Linked DNA regions of Homo sapiens: region 2 is linked to region 1. A link means that fine-mapping ties the variant in region 1 to the expression of a gene that starts in the linked region. Tissue or cell type: whole blood. Region 1 holds a variant in brackets; the other region holds the start of a gene. All regions are shown on one strand. Distances are between the middles of the regions.

Evidence for each region. PIP is the estimated chance that this variant, and not a neighbour inherited with it, causes the effect.
Region 2: DNASE2 starts here. The variant in region 1 is fine-mapped to the expression of DNASE2 in whole blood (INTERVAL, PIP above 0.99).

The regions. Positions count from the first base shown.
Region 1 is chr19:11,879,454-11,886,885 of GRCh38, reverse strand. No RefSeq gene overlaps it. Among named protein-coding and RNA genes, the nearest start is that of ZNF69, 4.6 kb to the left of the region's middle. RefSeq lists an enhancer at 5,386-5,565. The variant C/GC (reference allele first, on the strand shown) is at 2,940.
Region 2 is chr19:12,878,544-12,883,543 of GRCh38, reverse strand. DNASE2 (deoxyribonuclease 2, lysosomal) reads left to right here and starts at 2,095. Exons shown (of 6, transcript NM_001375.3): 1 at 2,095-2,254; 2 at 2,392-2,572; 3 at 2,664-2,742; 4 at 4,710-4,874; 5 at 4,965-5,000. The coding sequence starts at 2,169. RefSeq lists cis regulatory regions at 473-973, 1,713-2,273 and enhancers at 2,168-2,277, 1,937-2,564.

The DNA.
Region 1 (7,432 bases):
GCGTGAGCCACCGCGCCTGGCCCACATTTTCTTTATATATATGAATATCTCTGTCGGATATAAAATGCTTTAGGAATAAATTCTTGGTCCCACGAAGTAAAACTAGCACTTAGGGGAAAGTTTCATTTGTTTAGCAAGGCAATTTACTTCTGCAGAAGTGTGCCACTTGTGTCAATCAAGATCACAAGAGCACAGAGAACAAAGGTCACCGGGGGTTTTTTTATCCTTAATGCGGTCCCTATCTCTGTGTCACTCCTTCATGGGCTGGGGTTCGACCACACAATCTGAGCTGACCCGACTGGCTACTTGTACGTATTTTTCTAAATATAGAAGGAGAGGGGAACGTGAGGTACAGAGATGGAGCGTGTGAGACGTGCAGTTTCGGGGGAACAATGGGTACAGGTAACCAAGGGAACAGATGTGAGTTATTGATTAGAGCTGACGGGAAGGGGGTAGGCTGTTTTACAGTAACTAGGGGCAAGGAGGAACAGGAAAGTTGAGCTGGAGAACAAAAGACAAGGAAGTTAGCAGGCTAAGTCTTTGAAGAGAAACTCAGAGAGGCCAGGCGCGGTGGCTCACGCCTGTAATCGCAGCACTTTGGGAGGCTGAGGCGGGTAGATCACGAGGTCAGGAGATCGAGACCATCCTGGCTAACATGGTGAAACCCCGTCTCTACTAAAAAATACGAAAAATTAGCCAGTCGTGGTGGTGGGCGCCTGTAGTCCCAGCTACTCGGGAGGCTGAGGCAGGAGAATGGCATGAACCCAGGAGGCAGAGCTTGCAGTGAGCCGAGATCACGCCACTGCACTCCAGCCTGGGTGACAGAGTGAGACTCCGTCTCAAAAAAAAAAAAAAAAAGAAACTCAGAGAAATTTACTGTATGTTACAATTCCTCCCTTTTAATTTTCTTATGATTTTTTCTCTTTAAACTTTTTTAACGTGTTTTGGCTTTGCTGTTTGATTTGATCTTTTAAAAGGAAAAGCTTACTTGAATAAGGTGGAGGAGAACTAAGGGAGGTTTCAGTAAATGCTGTTCGTACAATCCTTTGTATTAGCCTACGGATGCATGGTATGACACAACGCCTAACAAGAATAAGTACACCTGTTACGACTGTAAAAGAAATAAGTATTGAGGCTATGATTCTTTATTGACTGAACTACTTTCCTAGCCATCTTGAAATAGGGTCATTGACTCCAGAAATTTTAGCTAATTCATTGGATAAAGCGGTAAGTCTTTGCAAGGCCTTTGTTATGCTCTCACTGGGGGCAGTGTTGTTTGGAATGAAGGTACAACACTGGGTTTTAATCATAACACAAACTCCACCTTTTTTGGCTAATAACATGTCTGGAGCCATTCTGGTTTTTATTTTTTGAGATGGAGTCTCACTTCGTGGCCCAGGCTGGAGTGCAGTGGCACCATATTGTCTCACTGCAAGCTCTGCCTCCCGGGTTCACGCCATTCTCCTGCCTCAGCCTCCCCAGTAGCTGGGACTACAGGTGCCCGCCACTACGCCCGGATACTTTTTTTGTATTTTTTAGTAGAGACGGGGGTTTCACCATGTTAGCCAGGATGGTCTCGATCTCCTGACCTTGTGATCCGCCCACCTTGGCCTCCCAAAGTGCTGGGATTACAGGCATGAGCCACCGCGCCCAGTCAAGTGATTCTGTTTTCTTAAGCTATTTGGCTAGTAGGCCTTAACTGGTCAGCTGTTTTTTGATAAGATCCTTGGTGTAATTCATAAACTGCTGCTAATTATAATAGATGTAATTTATCGAAGCTACATTTTTATTAATAGTTATTCGGGGAAATATGGGTTTAAATCTTGCAGTTATTTGGTCTCAGGTTTTGAACTTGTTAGGCACTCCCCATGGGACTCTAATGGCCTTTATGTAAACTTGAGAGTCAAAAGACTTATAAGGGGCTTCTCTTATTTTTTGGTGTTGTGGCTTTTCTTTTTTTTTGGTTGATGAAATGCCAGTGTGAAAGGGATCGCCAATTGGACAAGAGCGCAAGTGCCGCTCCAGTTACTTGGCAGAGTATCCAGTAAAGGTCCACTACAATACCACCATACATCTGCTTGAGGATGACTAAGGGCAGACTGATGGGTAAGTTTTTGGAAGGGCTTAAGCTTATTGCATCTTGTTAAGCTTCTAAGGAACGCCAGATTCTCCCCTCGTCGTGAGAGACATGAGGTGAAATTGACGTCAGGAGAAGGAAGCTGAATGGCCTTTGGGGGCTGGCCTGCAGGTTGTTGGACTTCGGGATATAGCAGAGAGAGAGCTTGGCATGATTTGTTGCCCCAGGCTGTGGAATTTTGGAAAAGAGCTACCATACAGCCTATGCCTGGTCGGCTGAAGGGCTATCCTAGTGGAAAGGAAACAGTCTGGGCCTCTAGTCTGCCATGCATACAAGCGTAACAATTGCTTTTGTTCAATGTGCGGACGGAATATTGAATCCATTCCAACCAGGTATTTACATCTTGATATCCTGTTTTAATTGCTAGGGTTTGTCTTAAATCTTTTACTTCTACAATATTTACTTTAGTAGTATCATTAGGTAGAAAACAGGTGGCAGTCTGATTAGAAGAAAGCTTAGAAGGAGAAGAGAAGGAAGGGGGTGAAGAGAATGAAGGATTAATAAAACGCATTTCGAAAGATCTTATGAGGTCTGTGCTGGCCAAGTTGGCTCCTGTTCCATAGAAGTGACTTAAAGTAGGTTTAGGGTCAGTAGAGGTGGAAATTTGTATGGGATTACATTGATTATACTGGCAATTGGGGAGGTGCTTTTTTTAGTGAAATGAATGTATGGTTTTAAGGATATACAGCCACCTGCTGATGAGGTCTAGCCTTGACATTTGGTTGTCCATAGGACATCATTCTAGCTATGACAGACTTGTTTTCTTATATTTGTTAAGGAACAAGAGTCTTGGTAGGGGGGG[C/GC]CTTTCACCTTAAAGGGGCAGAGATACTTTTCTGAGGCTGAGACTTGTCTTTGACTTTGGAGATCTTTACAGGGTATGACTAGACATAGCATTAAACGTGATAACTTGGGGTGAGTTTGATTGAGTTACATTAATGACAAGGTGGTCAGCATTGGAAGGGGAAAAGAAGAAAGAGTAATAGAATAGATGTAAGAGGTTAAATTTTTCTTAGCTTTAGTTTGAGGGGGTTTTCCCCTGGAATAATGGCCTACGACTTTGGGGGTGGCGGTGCTTTCTTGACTCGGGTGTGATGGGTCTATCCTTTCTCTGCTGTCCAGACTGCAGTTTCAATGGTGGGAAGTACTAGGCCAGCTCCTCAGGCCGGTGTTGACGCACTGGGAACTCCAGGAGCCGCACCTGTACTGGAAAATTGTGAGTTTTGAGGGAAGAGAAAGTGGAAGATAAACCAAGTATGTAGGAATGTTGGCAGTGGATTGCTTTGAGAGGTAGTTTGGATTAATAGGAAGACAGAAGACATTTGAGTTATGGCAACTAAGTTTCTAGACTTGTTTGGCTAAGGATGTACATTTTCATACACATATAAACTTTAACTGTGCTATACATAGCTTGAGGTCTTTAATGGGTCCTCTAATTTAGGTGGGATAGGACTTCTTTCATAAGAGGTTTAAATAACATTTGAATTCCCTTCAGTGCCTACAGGAGAAACGGCAGCTGGTTCGGATTATCTGATTTGCTAGGTTATTTTCTTAACTCTTGAAAGATAGGATTTTTGGTGCCTGGGGACGTGGAAAATAGCTTTTTTTTTTTTTCTGGTAACTGAAGGTTATTTAACACTTGGGTTATTAACTCTTCATGAACAAGGCTTTGACCTTTATTATTGTCTGAAATTTTCTAAATGTATGAGCCACGATAAAGGTGTATTTAGAATCAATATAGATTAGTATAGATGGTTCCTTTGCAGTTACTTTAAAGCTTGACTAAGTGCAAACAGCTTACAAATTTGGGTAAACTATTAAACAATTTTTAAATTTTATTTCTCTAGGAACTTCTCTATTTATTATTGAACATCTGTTGAATCCTTTTTCCTTTAATCATTTTTGAAGGGGGTTTCTCTTAAGTTTGGCCGGACATTTGTATGGTAATCAGTTAAATCTAAACATGTGTGCTTCCTTTTTAGATTTGGATCTTTCGTTAAGAAACTTGTTAGGTTAAGCAAATTACTAGTAACATTAAACTATCATTTTTAACAGAATAGCCTCATATTTATACACATGTAATTCTTTTTTGGTGGTACATTTTAACATAGGTGACTTTAAAGAATCAGAGTTCTTTTCTGGTGGATATTTTCACTTTTAACACTGGCCTGACTATAATAAATGCTAGTGGATATATCCGCTGAAAGATTATCTACTTCTTGCTCAGGAAACTTAGCTGCGGGGATGCCAGGCTGCTTGGAGCCATCGCTGAAGCCCCGTATTACTTAGCCTCAGCAAAGTAAGGCAGATATCCTATAATGTAGTTTGCATGGGGCATAGGCTGGGGCCTGGCTCGCATGTCATGCAGAGCTGCCGTCAATACAGTGCCAGGACCTTGGACCAGCCAGTGGGCAGGAGCATGGGCTTTGCCGCTGCAGGGGTGCACTATGGGCCAGACAACGCTGACAACATGTTGCGGCAGATCCTTCATGTTGCTAGCCTGGCAAAAGCCATCTGGTGAATTAGGAGCTTGGAGTTCTTTAGGGGAGAGGGACTTAGGCTGGGGAAGAACAGACTTACTGGGCGATGCCTGAGGGGAAGGGTTGGGTATTAGGTGGGGAATGGTCTAGGGGATCTTGCGAGTTGTTCTTTTTGCTAGGATCCCCCAAGCCCCTTCCTTCACTGTCTTTTTCATTAAAGATGGTTCTATCTTAATAGGGCACATGTACAACTCATTTTCCTCCAAATATTAGTTTTTGACTTGCTCCTTTCAATCCTTGGAGGAGGGGAAAGGACAACTCCTTGCAACTAACATAGGGCATAATTTGTTTCTTCTCAGGAGGCAGGTCTTCTACTAGCAACATTTTCTATTAGAAGTTCACAAATCCATCCCTCATTCGACTTAAATTCTGGCCAGAAAACTAAGGGTTCAAGGATTCGTTCTTGAGTCTAAATGGAACAGCAATATTTTATCACTAATTGCTTTTTCTTATGTTTAGTCTTTTCATTATCTTTCTAATGTTTTAACATGAGACCTAGGGGACTATTAGGGGGGATATCTTTGTTGCTAACTTTGTCTTTTTTGCTTGTAATATTTCCTATACTGGGTCCTGGCTAGGCTCAATCCCTCGTGATAGGAATCTCTTGCCTAGGGGGGCTTGCTGTGGCTCAACCCCTCATATTAAGGATCTCTTGCCTATTTTGGGGGTTCCTTGTGGCTCAGCCTCTCAAATTAAGGATCTCTTGCCTATTTGGGGGGTTCCTTGTGGCTCAACCCCTCATATTAGGAGGTCTTTTGCCTATCCCTCACTGGAAGTGTGGCTAAGGCTCAATTCCACTATCCTTTAGCTCCACCTGCTGGAGGTTCCTTGCACCCTTCTTTCGCTTCATCCACTCTGGCCGCTTCCCTCGCAGGTTTGTTTCAGGTTCCTCTTAGCATTGATGGCAGGTCCGTATAAACCTGTGACAGGACCCCCGCAGGGCTGCCCTAAGCCGTGTGAGGTGACCACAGAACCGCAGATTGGACTCACTCGCTCCGCACAGCAGTAGTGCTTGTTACCATTCATGCACTTTCAACCCCCAGAATGCCCTGACACACCCCTCCGACTACCAAAGAATTACTTTGTTGCCCCTGCAACGTTTCCCACCTTGGTCTGTGCACAGAGTTTACCTGGTCGCTGCGGTATTGCAAGCCTCTCTTCCCCGCGTTGCTGAGAGTCCGGGTTTATTCGTCAAAATGGGTGGGTCTCGATCTCCTGTCCCTGAGGCCACCGCAATGGGGCAGTGGGACGCGTCTCCCCAGGGTAGGGTGACTGAAGAACTCTTCCAAAAGGAGCATGGGGATCTCGGACGATCCCCTAGAATTGTTGGATATAAAATGCTCCCGGAATAAAAGCTTGGTGCCGTGAAGTAAAACCAGCACTCAGGCAAAATTTTAATTCTCTCAGCAAGGCAATTTACTACTGCAGAAGGGTGCCACTCACGTCAATCAAGATCACAAGAGCACAGAGAACAAAGGAGACCAGGAGGTTTTTATCCTTAATGCGGTCCCTATCTCTGTGTTACTCCCCCATGGGCTGGGGTCGGACCGCACAGTCTGAGCTGACCCGATTGGCTGCTTGTACATATTTTTCTAAATATAGAAGGGGAGGGGGATGTGAGGTACAGAGGTGGAGCATGTGAGATGTGCAGTTTTGGGGGAACAATGGGTACAGGTAACCAAGGGAACAGATGTGAGTTATTGATTAGAGCTGATGGGAACGGGGTAGGCTGTTTTAAAGTAACTAGGGGCAAGGAGGAACAGGAAAGTTGAGTTTGAGAACAAAAGACGAGGAAGTTAGCAGGCTAAATCTTTAAAGAAAAACTTAAAGAAATTCACTGTATCTTACAAATCTGACCCCAGTGGCCCCATGCATGTCAAACCCCAAACCCTGCCCAGAAGACAGCCCCAGGCTCCAGAGGTACAACACCAGAAAGGACAGAACCCCCACACATACGTGTGCATGTGGGTCTTCTGCTTTCCAGGGCTCTTCAGCTTCTCGGAATCCGCACTCCTTCTGGAGCTGCTCTGAGCAATTGGAGGCCACCTGTAGGGGAGGGCGGGCTGCCCGGAAGCCCCCAGGAAAGGCTCCTTTCCCTTCCTTTGCAGGCTCCACACTGGCCTCAGCGTTGAGTCACCGGCCTCGGGCTCTGCTGCCCCCTGCAGGTTATTCAGCTACTTCTCACCCCATTGATCAGTTCCATGACACAAACACCCTCAATCCCATTGTGTGAATAAGACACCAGCAGAGTCCCTGCTCTCCTCCTATGTTTATGTATAAAGTGGGGAAGGAAAATTCTAAGATAACTTAAGTGCATTTAAAAGATTTCCAGATCGTGGTGGAGGTGGCAGCTGAGGGACGCACGTTCAGTGACACTGCAGTACCTCCGGGCCTGGCTGGTTGGAGAGAGGGTGGAGAGCTGGAGATGAATGTGGATATATGGAGGGAGCAGCCCTGGGAACCGGGCTCTGCAGCAGCGCGGCTCTAGGGCCTGGAGCCCGGGGGAGCAGAGATGATGGGGGCTCCTGGGACAGGACGCTTGGGGAGAAGAGAGTCAGGCGGTTTCCATGGGACAGGGGTGCTGTGGCAGCTGGTGTGGGCCTGTGGCTATCATAACTAAGCCCGATTGGGACGTGAAAACTTGGATTCCGTGGGAATTTATGAAGAGGAAGGCTCTGATGACAAAGAAGTCATCGATGAGGAGAGGGATTAGGGTCACTGGCAAGCTCGCCCCCTTATGGAAAGAAAAGTGAACGTT
Region 2 (5,000 bases), 1.0 Mb before region 1:
GAGATGGGGTTTCGAAATGCTGGCCAGGCTGGTTTCGAAATCCTGACCTCAGGTAATCTGCCAGCCTCGGCCTCTCAAAGTGCTGGGATTACAGGCGTGAGGCACCGCACCCGGCCGGAAAAATGGCTGGTCATAATTTAACTACTACACCTACAGTTTAGCAGAATTCAGGCTCCTCTCATCCTCCTAACCTAGTGCCCTTTCATTATTTCTACAAAGGCAGTTTAGTTTGGGGAAGGGCTATTATCATTTAAGCTATAAACTAAATTCCTCCCAAAATTAGCTTGGGGCCAGGCATGGTGGCTCCCTCTTTAATCCCAGCAATTTGGCAGGCTGAGGCGGGCAGATCACTTGAGCCCAGGAGTTCGACACCAGCCTGAGCCCCAAGGTGAAACCCCATCTCTACCAAAAATGGTGAAACCCAGTCTCTACCAAAAATACAAAAATTAGCTGGGCATGTGGCGCATGCCTGTAATCCCAGCTACTCAGGAAGCTGAGGCAGGAGGATTGCTTGAACCTAGGAGGCGGATGTTGCAGTGAGCTGAGATCACACCACTGGACTCCAGCCTGGGCGACAGAGTGAGACAACGTGTCAAAAAAAAAAAAAAAGTTAGCTTGACCCCACTCCAGGAATGACCAAGCAAGGGCAGTTTGGAGATTAAAGGCAAGATGGAGTTGGTTAGGTCAGAGCTCTTTCACTGACATAATTTTCTGTCATAATTTTTGCAAAGGCAGTTTCAAGCCAGTACTCAGATTCCCATAGCCCTTTGCCCTGCCATGATCCTTTGAGGCTGAGGTGGGAGAATCACTTGAACCCCGGAGTTCCAGAGCAGCCTGGGCAACATAGTGAGACCCTCATCTCTGCAATGAACAATTATCTGGGTGTGGTGGCACAGGCCTGTAGTACCAGCTACCTGGGAAGATCTCTTGAGCCCAGTAGGTTGAGGCTGCAGTGAACTGTGATGGAGTCACTGCATTCTAGCCTGGGTGAGAAACCATTATCCTGTCTCAAAACGACAAAAAACAAACATACAGTCACCTCTTTGCTAGCTCAGGGGATCCTGGAGAAAACGTGCAGAATGAAAAAGGAGAGTCTGGGTGGCGTGGATTACATGCCTGTAATCCCAGCACTTTGGGAGGCAAGACAGGTGGATCCCTTGAGCTCAGGAGTTCAGCCTGAGCCACATGGTGAAACCGTGTTTCAAAAAAAAAACTACAAAAATTAGCTGGGCATAGTGGCATGTGCCCGTGATCCCAGCTACTCGGGAGGCTGAGGTGAGAGGATCACTTGAGCTGGGGAGGCAGAGGTTGCAGTGAGCCAAGATTGCGCCACTGCACTCCGGCCTGGGCAACAGAGCGAGATATTGTCCGGGAAAAAAAAAAAAAAAAAAGGAAGGAAAAAAAAAAAGAAAGAAAAAGGGGAAGATACACTGGAACACAAATGCTTCTTAAGGGGCGCAGTGGCTCACTTCTGCAATCTTGGCACTTTCGGGGGCCGAGGCTGGTGGATCACGAGGTCAGGAGTTCGAGACCAGCCTAGTCAACATGGAAAAACCCCGTCTCTACTAAAACTACAAAAATTAGCCGGGCGTGGTGTCGGGCGCCTGTAATCCCAGCTACTCGGGAGGCTGAGGCAGGATAATCGCTTTAATCAGGAAGGCGGAGGTTGCAGTGAACCGAGATCGTGCCATTGCACTCCAGCCTGGGCGACAAGAGTGAAACTCCGTCTCAAAAAAAAAAAAAAAAAAAAAAAAAAAAAAAGAGGAAGAACAAAGGTCCCAAGAGTTGGACCCAGGTTGTAGGGCTGGAATAAAAAATAAAATACAAACTTGTGCCTGATCCAGAAACCCGGGCGGGAGTTGGGTCAGACAGAAGAGCGTGGGCTGGGATTAGCTACCACGAAAAGGAACGGTGGCCAGGCTCCAGGAGACGCTGGAGCGCCGGGCCCGTCGTGGGCGTGGTCTGGGCAGACTCAGCGTTGCCTTTTGCCTCTCCAAAACGCAGCATCGCGTCTCGGGGGAGGAGTCTGTACCCTCGTGATGTCCCCGCCCCGGTTCCCAGGCAAGTTTAGGGAAGTGAAAGGCGCCAGGTGCCAGTCCTGGCCTCTGATGTAACCCAGCGCCCCGCAGTCCCGACACAGATTCCTGGATCTCAGCCCCATAGCAGCTATGATCCCGCTGCTGCTGGCAGCGCTGCTGTGCGTCCCCGCCGGGGCCCTGACCTGCTACGGGGACTCCGGGCAGCCTGTAGACTGGTGAGTGCGCAGCGGGGGGCCTACCATCGCCCCGGGGTCCGGCTGCGGTCACTCAACCGGGATGGCTACCTCCTCGGGGAACCCTGGGGTGCCTTCTCTTCCCTCTCTCCTATTTCTGTGCATTCTCCGACCTCCAGGTTCGTGGTCTACAAGCTGCCAGCTCTTAGAGGGTCCGGGGAGGCGGCGCAGAGAGGGCTGCAGTACAAGTATCTGGACGAGAGCTCCGGAGGCTGGCGGGACGGCAGGGCACTCATCAACAGCCCGGAGGGGGCCGTGGGCCGAAGCCTGCAGCCGCTGTACCGGAGCAACACCAGCCAGGTGAAGGGGGCCCCGGGCCAACTAGGGGCGAAACTCTAGGGCTGCCCTGCCTGGGAGGAATTTCACGTTGCCTCCGTTTATCCGCCCGCAGCTCGCCTTCCTGCTCTACAATGACCAACCGCCTCAACCCAGCAAGGCTCAGGACTCTTCCATGCGTGGGCACACGAAGGGTGAGGCCTGGATTGGGGGCTGGGGAGAGACTCGGGTCCCATTTTTCCAAGGTAACCCCTGACGTGCATGGGGTGGTCGGGGAGATCTGCACTGTCAGACCCTGGGCATCTATTCCCCCCAACTTTTTTTTTTCTTTGTTTTTGAGACGGTGGGAGTTCGCTCTGTCACCCAAGCTGGAGTGCAGTGGCACAATCTTGGCTCACTGCAATCTCTGCCTCTGGGGTTGAAGCAATTCTCCTGTCTCAGCCTCCCAAGTAGCTGGTATTAAAGGCGCACCATCACACCAGGCTAATTTTCATATTTTTAGTACAGACGAGGTTTCACCATGTTGGCCAGGCTGGTCTCGAACTCCTGGTTTCTACCTCAAGTGATCTACCCGCCTTGGCCTCCCAAAGTGCTGGGATTACAGGAATGAGCCACCCTGCCCAGCCGAGTTCCTATGCATTTTTCCAAGCTAACCCCTGACCTCCATAGTGGGGTGGGAGATCTCCCCTGTCAGACCTTGGGCATCTATTTCCCCTATTTTATTTTCTTTTAGACAAGGTCTCACCCAGTCACCTAGGCTGGAGTGCAGTATCACAGCTCACTGCAGCCTTGACCTCCCAGGGCTCAGGTGATCCTCCTACCTCAGCCTCCCAAGTACTGGGCCTGCCGGTACCCCCCACCACGCCTGGCTTTTTTTTTTTTTTTTTTTTTTTGCGGCACTCTCTCTCCATCACCCAGGCTGGAGTTCGGTGGTGCAATCTCAGCTCACTGCAATCTCCATCTCCCCAGTTCAAGCGATTCTTCTGCCTCAGCCTCTGGAGTAGCTGGGATTACAGGTGTGCGCCACCATGCCCAGCTAAATGTTGTATGTTTTAGTAGAGATGGGGTTTTACCAGGTTGGACAGGCTGATATTGAACTCCTGACCTCAGGTGATCCACCTGCCTTGGCCTCCCAAAGTGCTGGGATTACAGGCGTGAGCCACCACACCTGGCCTACTTTTTGTATTTTTGTAGAGTGGGCTTTTGCCATGTTGCCTAGGCTGGTCTCTAAGTCCTGGTTCAAGCAATCCACCCACCTTGGCCTCTTAATGTGCTGCGATTACCGGCATGAGCCGCCACACCTGGCCTGTTTCCCTACCTTACATTACTCTTGGCGTTATTCTGGACTATAAGAATTTATGCCTGCAAAAACTGAGCTCAGCTGTGGTTCTAACACTGCTGGCACCCTCTCTAAGCCCCGCTGCAAACTGAGGGTGTTCCTGATTGCAGATGAGCTTGCTGGGAGGCCTGGAGCAATACCCTCTAATTGCCTTTTTTTTTTTTTTTTTTTTGAGAAGGAGTTTTGCTCTTGCTACCCAGGCTGGAGTGCAATGGTGCAATCTCGGCTCACTGCAACCTCCGCCTCCTGGGTTCAAGTGATTCTCCTGCATCAGCCTCCCGAGTAGCTGGGATTACAGGCATGCACCACCATGCCCGGCTAATGTTGTATTTTTAGTAGTGATGAGGTTTCTCCATGTTGGCCAGGCTGGTCTTGAACTCCCGACCTCAGGTGATCCGCCCTCCTCGGCTTCCCAAAGTGCTGGGATTACACTGCGTGGGGCCTGCCTTCTTTTTTTAAATTTTTATTTATTTATTTATTTATTTATTTATTTACTTACTTACTTACTTATGTTTGAGATGAAATTTTGCTCTGTGGCCCAGGCTGGAGTGCAGTGGTGGATCTCAGCTCACTGCAACCTCCACCTCCTGGGTTCAAGCGATTCTCCTGCCTCAGCCTCCTGAGTAGCTGGGATTACAGGCGTCCACCACCACGCTCAGCTAATTTTTGTATTTTTAGTAGAGATGGGGTTTCGCCATGTTGGCCAGGCTGATTTCTAACTCCTGACCTCAGGTGATCTGTGTGTCTCGGTCTCCCAAAGTGCTGGGATTACAGGCGTGAGCCACTGCGCCCGACCTCCCCTAATGCCTTCTTTTGGTCCAGGTGTCCTGCTCCTTGACCACGATGGGGGCTTCTGGCTGGTCCACAGTGTACCTAACTTCCCTCCACCGGCCTCCTCTGCTGCATACAGCTGGCCTCATAGCGCCTGTACCTACGGGCAGACCCTGCTCTGTGTGTCTTTTCCCTTCGCTCAGTTCTCGAAGATGGGTAAGTCGAGTCAGGGACACAGGATGAGTCCTGGGTTTACTGACCAGAACCTGGAACGATCTTGCATTTCCTCCTCCCCTTGTCCTCCAGGCAAGCAGCTGACCTACACCTACCCCTGGGTCTATA